2 separate regions of the Homo sapiens genome follow, and region 1 is linked to region 2. Evidence: fine-mapped expression QTL. A gene starts in region 2. The other region holds a variant in brackets. All regions are shown on one strand. Distances are between the middles of the regions.

What was found. PIP is the estimated chance that this variant, and not a neighbour inherited with it, causes the effect.
Region 1: its variant is fine-mapped to the expression of F2 in cerebellum (GTEx, PIP above 0.99).

The regions. Positions count from the first base shown.
Region 1 is chr11:46,738,038-46,743,410 of GRCh38, reverse strand. It overlaps F2 (coagulation factor II, thrombin), which reads right to left. Exons shown (of 14, transcript NM_000506.5): 13 at 4,293-4,363; 14 at 3,905-4,146. The coding sequence ends at 4,003. It overlaps CKAP5 (cytoskeleton associated protein 5), which reads left to right. Exons shown (of 44, transcript NM_001008938.4): 44 at 1-363. Among named protein-coding and RNA genes, the nearest start is that of MIR5582, 12 kb to the left of the region's middle. The variant G/A (reference allele first, on the strand shown) is at 2,819.
Region 2 is chr11:46,716,014-46,721,386 of GRCh38, reverse strand. F2 (coagulation factor II, thrombin) reads right to left here and starts at 2,174. Exons shown (of 14, transcript NM_000506.5): 1 at 2,073-2,174; 2 at 1,525-1,685; 3 at 840-864; 4 at 547-597. The coding sequence starts at 2,151.

The DNA.
Region 1 (5,373 bases), 22 kb before region 2:
CACAGACTTGGAGCTGTCTTTTATTCCTTTGGAATGGAAGGAACTCTCCTTCCCTGCTCTCCACAAACAGCTCCTAGGGAGCAGAAAAATCTCATCCTTCCTTGTTTTGAGATTTTGGTCATGATTTCCCTCCAATTATCACCAGTCGTTTCAAGAAGCTCTTGGGCATCCTACCACTTTGCTGACCAAAGGCACACAAGATTGCGCCCAGAGATTGGCTGGGCTTCAGTGGTTCTCACACTACAACTAGATTTGTGTTCATTTGACTAATGGAGTTTGGGAAATCTTAGTGGTTTGCTGCTTGGTTGTATGAGTCTCTTTTGGTCCAGGCTAACAGTTGCTTCACATTCAGTCAGAGTAAGGATGAGAAAGTGAGCTGAGTATTCACCTCTGGAATAAATTCCACAGGACCTCCCTCCACAGTCAGAAAAACTCTTCAGGATGAAAAGGTTCTGGATTCAGGAGGAGATTTTGGGCAGTTATAAAGTTCAAAGGAACTTTCCTATTGTAGCCCACCTTCAATTCAATTGATGTCCAAGAAATGAAAGATTGATGGAAGATTAATCCTGTAAAGGTTCCAGTCATCGTTTTCAGGTGGCCCCGGAGCCTCCTGAAATTAAACTTGTCTCTCCTTTATAGTGGGAACATGGGAGTGGGTATTTGTTCACTGAAGGGATGATGGAGGCGTTTGCTGCTATAGTGGAAAGACATATTTAGAAAGAATGGCTACAAAGGCTGGGCCTGGTGGCTCACTCATACAACCGTAGCATTTTGGGAGGCTAAGGTGGGTGAATCACTTGAGCCCAGGAGTTCAAGACCAACATGGGCAACATGGCTCTACCAAAAAAATACAAAAATTAGCTGGGTATAGTGGCTCAAGCCTGTAGTCCCAGCTACTTGGGAGGCTGAGGTGGGAGGATCACCTGAGCCCAGGAGGTCAAGGCTGCAGTGAGCCGTGATCACTCCACTACACTCCAGCCTGGGCAACAGAGCAAGACCTTGTCTCAAAAAAGAGGAGGGAAACAAAAGAAGAGGAAAAAAAAGAGTGGCTGTACTCCTGTCTGGAATTAGCACAGCTGACTGGAAAAACCCAAGTCCCTAGAGCTTACAACACTGACCGCTATGTCGGAAGAAAACAGACTTATGAGAATGTGTGTTCTTGTTTAAAAAGCAGGTCCTGCATGTCACAAGTAATTCTGAATCCCTTCCCCCTTGATCGAGTTGATGCCCTGGGCTGCCAAATCCTGCAAGCTCACTGCCTTTCAGTCAACCAGAACCAAAGAATGAGGCCAAGGAACTCTGTCCTGTTTGTTTTCTGATGTGTTGAAAAATGAGAAAAAAAAAAAAAAACGTTATGAGGAGGGTGCTAAAGATCCCTATCTCAGGTCCCTTCCCGTGGAAAACCACGTTAGAAGATCCTAGGCCAGGTACTGTAGCCACAGGGTTTCCCTGCTCCACTCCACTATCCTGTGCCTGAGGCAGACGTTGATCTTCATTCTTTCCCTGAGCTCATGGATGAGACTTCTCAAGACGGAGCCATGCTCCATCCCACACCTGTGACCTCTGCCAACAGTAACCGTGAAGAATGTGCTCTGAAAGGGTATCTTTGAAGTTCTATGATTCTTTTTTTTGCAAGGGACTCTTGCTGTGTCGCTCAGGCTGGATGGCATGCAGTGGCATGCCTCTCTCCTCACTACAACCTCTGCCTCCTGAGTTCAGCCAATTCTCCTGCCTCAGCCTCCCAAGCAGCTGAGAAGCTGGGATTACAGGTGCCCACCACCACACCCGGCTAGTTTTTGTATTTTTAGTAGAGACGGGATTTTACCATGTTGGCCAGGCTGGTCTCCAACTCCTGACCTCAGGTGATCCACCAGCCTCAGCCTCCCAAAGTGATGGGATTACAGGCGTGAGCCACCATGCCCAGCCCATGACTCTTATAACTTAGAGGTCCCATTTCTTGGAAAAATAAATTGTTCCAGCTGGGAACTGCTGTGTGAGGAAACATTCCAGGAAGCAACTACCCCACTGATGGGCTATTTCCAGGGCCCAAGAGAGGGACGAGGTAAGCGGCAGAGGAACTTTCAACAGGCCCAATGCCCGGTCCAGTTCCCAGGCAATAGTGAGAATACGAGTGGTAGTGATTCACAGCTTACTAGGCACTAGGCATTGTGCTAAGGCACCATGTAAGTTCTTTCATTTAATCCTCATAACCGTATGAGGTAAGTAATGTCGTTATATACACCTTTTAATATACAGGTGGCCTTCCAGATCTGTGGGTTTTGCATCTGCAGATTCAACCAACTGCAGATTGAAAATATTTGTGGGGAAAGAAAACAATAAAAATAATACAAATTTTAAAATAATACAGTATAACTATTTACATAGTATTTACGTTCTATTGGGTGTAAGTCATCTAGAGATGATTTGAAGTATATGGGAAGGCCGGGCAGGGTGGCTCATGTCTGTAATCCCAACACTTTGGGAGGCCCCGATGGGTGGATAACCTGAGGTCAGGAGTTTGAGACCAGCCTGACCAACACGGTGAAACCCCATCTCTACTAAAAATACAAAAACTAGCCAGGCGTGGTGGCGGGCACCTGTAATCCCAGCTACTCGGGAGGCTGAGGCAGGAGAATCACTTGAACCTAAGAGGCGGAGATTGCAGTGAGCCGAGATCGCACCATTGCACTCCAGCCTGGGCAATGAGCAAAATTCCAACTCAAAAAGATAAAAATAAATTTTAAAAATGAAGTATATGGGAGGATGTGCATAGGTTATATGTAAACTGTGCCATTTTATATAAGAGATTTGAGCATCT[G/A]TGGATTTTGGTATGCATGGTTGGTTCTTCTTCTTTTTGAGACAGAGTCGCTCTGTCGCCCAGGCTGGAGTGCAGTGGTGCAATCTTGTCTCACTGCAAGCTCCACCTCCCAGGTTCATGCCATTCTCCTGCCTCAGCCTCCCACGTAGCTGGGACTACAGGCGTCCACCACCACGCCTGGCTAATTTTTTGTATTTTTGGTAGAGACAGGGTTTCACCGTGTTCACCAGGATGGTCTCAATCTCCTGACCTTGTGATCCATCCACCTCAGCCTCCCAAAGTGCTGGGATTACAGGCTTGAGCCACCGTGCCCAGCCCTGATTTTTATAAACAGGGTTTCACTGTCACCCAGGCTGCAGTGCAGGTGTAGTGACATGATCATGGCTCACTGCAGCCTCAACCTCCTGGGCTCAAGTGATCCTCCCAAGTAACCTTGACTACAGGCACATGCCACCACGCCTAGCTAATTTTATTTTTTGGGGTCTCACCACATTGCCCAGACTGATCTCGCATTCCTAGCCTCAACCTTAGTCTCCTAAATTGCTGAGATTACAGGTGTGAGCCACCATGCCCTACCTGATCTGATATCATTTTAATGATACAAGGGAAGATGTAGGGAGTTAACTAAAAAAGCACCGTCCTCACTCAATATTTTCTATATTTGAAGTCCTACTTTGAGCTTTCTTAGCCATGTGACTTTGGACAAGGTACTTCTCCAAATCTCAGTTTACTCACCTACCTCTTGTGAGGATTAAATGAGATAATCCATTAAAACCCAGAGGGTGGAACATCTTTAATGCCTGTAAATTCAACCTGCCATCTTTCCTCTCACCTGGCCCTGCTCTGAAGATAGATAGTGGATTCTTTTGGGACAGGGTCTCACTCTGTCACCCAGGCTGGGGTGCAGTGGCTCACTGCAGCCTCCACCTCCTGGGCTCAAGCGATCCTCCCACCTCAGCCTCCCGAGTGCTCGGACTACCAGCGTGCACCAGGTGGTGGATTCTTAAGTCTTCTTTATCCAGTAGTATTACTGGCTCTTCCTGAGCCCAGAGAGCTGCCCATGAATAGCACTGGGAGCATTGAGGCTCGCTGAGAGTCACTTTTATTGGGAACCATAGTTTTAGAAACACAAAAATAATTCTTTCACGGGATTGGTTCCAGGAGCCCAGAATATGAGTGGCCCCCTACTCTCCAAACTGATCAATGACCTTCTGTATCCACTTCTTCAGGCGGAACACATGTGTGTAGAAGCCATATTTCCCATCCCGGTCACAGCCTTCACCCCATGAGACGATGCCCATTTGATACCAGCGGTTGTTAAAGGGGCTCTGAAGAAGAAAGATGAGGTTTCCAATAGAGTCAAGTTCAAGGTCACATCAGTATTCCCCTGCCAGGCAACTGTTTCTAGATACTAGAGTTTCTCCCCACCCCCAGAAGATGTGTTCACCAGGCCCTGGGCTTTAGAGAAGCTTACCTTCATGACAAAGGGTCCCCCACTGTCACCTTCACAGGCATCCCCTCGTTTCCCTTCATCAGGCTTGTAACCTTGAAAGAGAACAGCCGTCTGTGCTCAGGAGCATAGCTCATAGCCCAGCCACGCCCCTTCACGAGACACAGCTGGTGAGAGTCCACTTACCCCTCCAGTCATTCTTGCTGTCCCCACTTCCTCACCCTACCCATCCAATCCTAGCAAATCTTGTCGGCTCTACCTTCAGCATAGACCCCAAATCCAAACCCTTCTCACCACTTCTAGCTCGAGCTCCTGAACCCACTAGTTTCCTTCATTCTTTGCCCACCTACAGTCTATTCTCCACCCAACAGGCAGAATAATGCTTTTAAAAAGTTGGACCAGACCAGGGGAGGTGGCTCATGCCCAAGCCGGGTGGATCACTTGAGCTCAGCAGTTCAAGACCAGCCTGGGCAATATGGCAAAACCCTCTCTCTACAAAAAATTAGCTGGGCATGGTGGCACATGCCTGGAGTCCCAGCTACTCGGGAGGCTAAGAGAGGAGGATCACTTGCGCCTGGGAGGTTAAGGCTGCAGTGAGCCGTGATCATGTCACCACACTCCAGCCTGGGCAACAGAGTGAGACCCTGTCTCGAAAAAATTAATTAATGATAAAAGACCAAGAAAAAAATTTAAATTAAAAATTAAAAAATTAAAAAGTTAGACCTACAAGTCTGATGAGGATAATAATGATAGTTGCTTTTATCCAAATCTCCCCACGTATCCTCTACAAACAATACAGAACAACACTAACAACAGTAAAACCTACACAAAAAAACCACACCTTCACTAGGTGCTGTGGCTCACACCTGTAATCTCAGCACTTTGGGAGGCCAAGGCGGGCGGATCATGAAGTCAGGAGTTTAAGACCAGCCTGGCCAACGTGGTGAAACCCTGTCTCTACTAAAAATACAAAAATTAGCCAGACATGTTGGTGTGCGCCTATAATCCCAGCTACTCAGGAGACTGAGGTAGAATTGCTTGAACCTGGGAGGTGGAGGTGGAGGTTGCAGTGAGCCGGGATTGCACCACTGCACTACCGCCTGAG
Region 2 (5,373 bases):
AGACTCGGGTCAGGCAAAGGAGAATGAAGCCTTAAACATGAATTCATGGCCAGGCGCGGTGGCTCACTTCTATAATCCCAGCACTTTGAGGCCGAGGTGGGTGGATCACGAGGTCAGGAGTTCAAGACCAGCCTGGCCAACATGGTGAAACCCCGTCTCTACTAAAAATACAAAAATTAGCCAGGCGTGGTGGCGAGCACCTGTAATCCCAGCTACTTGGGAGGTTGAGGCAGAGAATTGCTTGAACCCGGGAGGCGGAGTTTACAGTGAGCCAAGATCGTGCCACTGCACTCCAGCCTGGGCAACAGAGCGAGACTCTGTCTCAAAAAAAAAAACATTAATTCATTAGTCCATTCATTCATTCATTCGTTCGCATGCCAGACACAGAGCCAGGTACAAAGAGACATCTTGACCCCAGGAATGGGAGCAATGTCAGATGCTGGGGACTGCCTCGGCCTCCACCAGCCACACTCCAAACCCACCCCTGAGCTCTTCTCCCAGGCTCCCCTCCATGTCCTGCTCCCCAAACCCGTGTCAGTTGCTCACCTTCCAGACATGCAGCAAGCTTATCTCGAGGCGTCCTCGCTGTCTCACAAGCTGGAAAAGACCCAGGTGTTTACCTTTGGGATTGGGGTATGGCCAGGATGAGCTGGAGTCAGGGTGGATGGGATGTTGGTGAGAAACAGAAAGATGGATGAACAGATGGGAGGGACCAAGGAAGGAGTGGGGAAGGGGTGGATGGGTGGATGGCTAGGTGCAGCAGAAGATTCTCTGGGTAGAATTCTCTCACTGGGGTCCCCAGGCCTCCCTTCCTGGGGCAAATCCTTCCCGGTGCTCACCTGTGTACTTGGCCCAGAACACATCCTGAAAAACAAGGGCTGGGAGTGAGGCTACGGCAGCTCCTGTTTTGTGTTGTTTTAGTAAATGTTATGTCTCCTCCTCACACTTTCCTTTACCCTGGTCACGCAGGGGGCAGGCTCTGGGGAGGTTTGTGGCAGAGTTTCCTACTTTTGTTTCCAAAAGGAGAAGAATATTTGAGGATAGGGGAGTTCCTCCAACACACACACCGAGACTGAAAGAGGCTGGGGGAGATGGGAGGAGAGGGGGCAGTGGGACCCTGGCAGAGCCCTACAGACAGGAAAGGCGACACAGAGCTCCAGGAACACTGAGTCTTGAGCCCGGGGGCTTGTGGTGGCCTCCCCAGAGTCCCACCCCTCAAGGGTGGTGTGGGAGTCTGCCGCTGAGGAGGCCATGTGGACACAGAGCTCCAGGGCAGGTGGATGTCTGAAGACTGTGGAGGCCTCCCCATGTCATGGAGCTGCACAGGGACACAGTCCAGGCACAGAGACCCCCAGGAAAGGCTGAGGCCGCTCCTCTTGCCAGCCCTGTGAGGAGGGGCTCAGAGTTGAAATGAGGCTGTGAGCAGCGAAGGGGCTGTGGCGTTCCTCGCTTGCTTCTCTGTGGAAGTGTCTAGAGTTGGGCCCGGTCTGAGGCCCCGGCACCGTCCGAGCAGCCCAGGCTCACCGTAGCCGTGGAGGACTCCAGAGCCTCGAAGGCCTCCTCGTAGCTGCACGTCTCCTCCACGCACTCTCGCTCCAGGTTGCCCTTGCGCACCTCCTCCAAGAAGGTGTTGGCTCGCCGGACCCGCTGGAGCAGCGACCGTGCTTGCTGAGGAGCCAGGAACACTGTAAGGCGGTGGGGGGGTCATGGGACAGCGGCCTCAGGAACAGGCAGTCTTGGCCATTCTGGGGGCATGAAGCAAGCCCACCCTCCCCTGCTGGCTTCTGAGAGAGGCTGTCTGGGCTGGTGGAAGTGCCTGGAAGGCTGCTAAATGTGGCCCCCTGTGCCCCTCCTACACTGCCCCTTGCCCCCAGCCTGCTCCCTATATTGGAAGAGAGAAGCAGCCATTCTCTTTCCAGCCCTGAGCTCCTGACTTCTTCCCTAAGCTGGCCGCCTGGGGCTGAGACCTACTTAGGGGCCAGCTCTGTGTGCTCTGTCCAGCCAGGAGACCCCAGCCCATGGGCCCACACCCCAGTCCTCCAGCCTGTTCCAGCCTGCAAGCACTCCCTTACCATGCTGGCTGTGCACAAGGCTACACAGGGCAGCCAGGGCCAGGCAGCCAGGCAGCTGCAAGCCTCGGACGTGCGCCATAGTGTGTCAGCTCCTGGGTCACTGAGGAATTGTCTGTCCTGACCCCTCTGGGTTAATGTTGAACTAACATGAAGAAATCAGCGGAGAGGGTGAGGTCAGAGGGTCAGGGCCGTGGGGACGGGTGGGTAGATAGTCCTCCTGTCCATCTCCACCATCTGGGAGGACAGGTCCTCCTGGGAGCAGGGATGGATGGTCTAGGAGGAGTCACAAAAAAGGTCACTGTCACCCCCATCTCCCACCCTCCCCCTCTGAGATTTAGCCCATTCTGGCCAGTGGGGCTATGAGACTTTCCTGGAGCTCCTTCGAATCCTAACATATAGCGGTGGTTGCTTGTCATCTCTGTGTGCCTCAGTTTCCTCATCTATACAATGGGAATAATACTTTGTTGTGAGGACTAAAGGAGATTAGGAATGGAATGTCCATGGAATATCGTAAGTTCTTAATCAGATCTGCACATATAGGCCAATGTGGGGGTTTGTATAATCATAATACACAGATATCAAAAATAGAGACAAAGATAAAAGGTGTGGCCTGATGGAAGTTGCCCCTCGCCATGGGATGCACCAGGGATAGGAACAGCCAACATTTGCCCCAGCTTCTCAGCCACTGGAGGAGGGGCCCATTTCTCCTCCTTCCTGTCCAGGGTGCCTGGAGGTGTGTTTGTGTGTGGCAGCTGCCTGGGAGGAGTCAGGTCCAGGGACTCTTGGGCCTTTAGTCTATCTTCTGTCACCTCCCAGGACCTGCGCCTGTCCCGGAACAGGGGCTACTGAAATCCCTGGGTCTCCACTGAGGGGCCCTCCTTCTCCCTGGCTGCCTGCCCCATGGCAGGCCTAGAGAGGCTTCTGGTCCTACCCTACCCTCCGCCCTACTCCTGTCCCTCCCCCATTTCCTGTTTGCAGTACCCAAGGCAAATATTAGTCTAAGTAGGACAGAGGGACAAAGAGCAGGAACACGGGGAGGCACAAGTTCTCGCCTCGCCTCACCTGTCCTTTGGGCCTGGCTGTTTGGGGTCTGGACCAGGTCATGTGTGGGAACAGGGAGTGTTGGCAGAAAAACTGGGGACCAGGACTCCCGCAAACACCTTAATTCCTGGGAGGCCCATTTCTTATATATTTTCATATATATATTTTTAGGCCAGGCATAGTGGCTCACACTTGTAATCCCAACACTTTGGGAGGCCGACATGGCAGGATCGCTTGAGGCCAGGAGTTTGAGACCAGCCTGGGCAACATAGCAAGACCCTCATCTCTACCAAAAAAAAATTAAAAATTAGCTGGGAATGGTGGTGCATGCCTGCAGTCTGAGCTACTGAGGAGGCTGAGGCAGGAGGATCACTTGAGCCCAGGAGTTCCAGGCTGCAGTGAGCTATGATTGCACCACTGTACTCCAGCCTGGGTAACAGAGTAAGATCCTGTTTCTTTCTTTCTTTCTTTCTTTCTTTTTTTTTTTTTTTTTTGAGACGGAGTCTCGCCCTGTCACCCAGGCTGGAGTGCAGTGGAACAATCTCGGCTCACTGCAATTTCCATCTCCCTGTTCAAGTGATTCTCCTGACTCAGTATCCCAAGTAGCTGGAATTACAGGCGTGTGCCACCACACCTGGCTAATTTTTGTATTTTTAGTAGAGATGGGGTTTCGCCACATTGACCAGGATGGTCTCGAACTCCTGACCTCAGGTGATCCGCCCACCTCCACCTCGGCCTCCCAAGTGCTGGGATTACAGGCGTGAGCCACCATGCCTGGCCTGAATGAGACCTGTTCCTAGAAAAATAAAATAAAATAAAATAAAATTGAATAAATAAAATAAAATTATAATATATATTTTGGGTTTTTGTTGTTTTGTTTTTGAGATGGAGGCTGGAGTGCAATAGCGTGAACTCGGCTCACTGCAACCTCTACCTCCTAGGTTCAAGCGATTCTCCTGCCTCAGCCTCCCGAATAGCTGGAACTACAGGCACCCGCCATCATGCCTGGCTAATTTTTGTATTTTTGTAGAGACAGAGTTTCACCATGTTGCCCAGGCTGGACGTGAACTCCTGACCTCAGGTGATCTGCCCACTTTAGCCTCCCAAAGTGGGGATTACAGGCGTGAACCACTGCTACCTACCTGTTGGGTTTTTTTGTTTGTTTTTGTTTTGTTTTGTTTTGTTTTTTTGAGATGGAGTCTCACTCTGTCACCCAGAAAGGAGTGCAGTGGCGTGATCTCAGCTCACTGCAACCTCGGCCTCCTGAGTACAAGTGATTCTCCTGCCTCAGCCTCCCAAGTAGCTCCCAAGTGCATGCTAGGGATTACAAGCATGCACTACCACGCCCAGCTAATTTTGTATTTTTAGTAGAGATGGGGTTTCACCATGTTGGTCAGGCTGGTCTCGAACTGCTGACCTCAGGTGATCCACCTGCCTCGGCCCCCCAAAGTGCTGGGATTACAGGTATGAGCCACTGCCCGGCCTCTTTGCAGACTTTTACTCACAGTTGCAGGCCTGTTCAGTATATGACATTCTTATACCCAGAAATGGCTATCTTAGCCTGGGCTGCTATAAAATTACTGTAGGCCAGGTGCAGTGGCTCACGCCTGTAATCCCAATACTTTGGGAGGCCGAGGCGGGCCGATCACAAGGTGAGGAGTTCGAGACCAGCCTGGCCAACATAGTGAAACCCCGTCTCTACTAAAAACACATAAATTAGCTAGGCATGGTGGCACACACCTGTAATCCCAGCTACTCGGGAGACTGAGACAGAAAAATTGCTTGAACCCAGGAGGCAGAGGTTGCAGTGAGCCGAGAGTGTGCCAATGCACTCCAGCCTGGGCGACAGAGCAAGACTTCATCTCAAAAAAAAAAAAAAATTACTGTAAACTGGGTGGTTTAAACAACAGACATCTACAAGGGGTCTTCGAAAAGTTCATGGAAAATGCGTATTATGAAAAAAGACTGCATGGATTTAAAAAAATTTTTGTGCACCAAAATAAACTCACACTAACTTGCTATAACATGAGTGAACAGGATGTAGTTTGAGGCACTAAGAAGGATAAGACATCAGTTTGAAGCGAGCCCTTATCAGAGCTAAATGAATTCTGCTGAAATTGAAGCAAGAACAAACAACAAATTTACGGTGAAGCTTGGGTGGAAGAATGGTGAAATCACTGATGCTTTATGAAAAGTTTACGGAGACAATGTCCCAAAGAAATCAGCAGCTTACAAATGGACAACTCATTTTAAGAAGGGA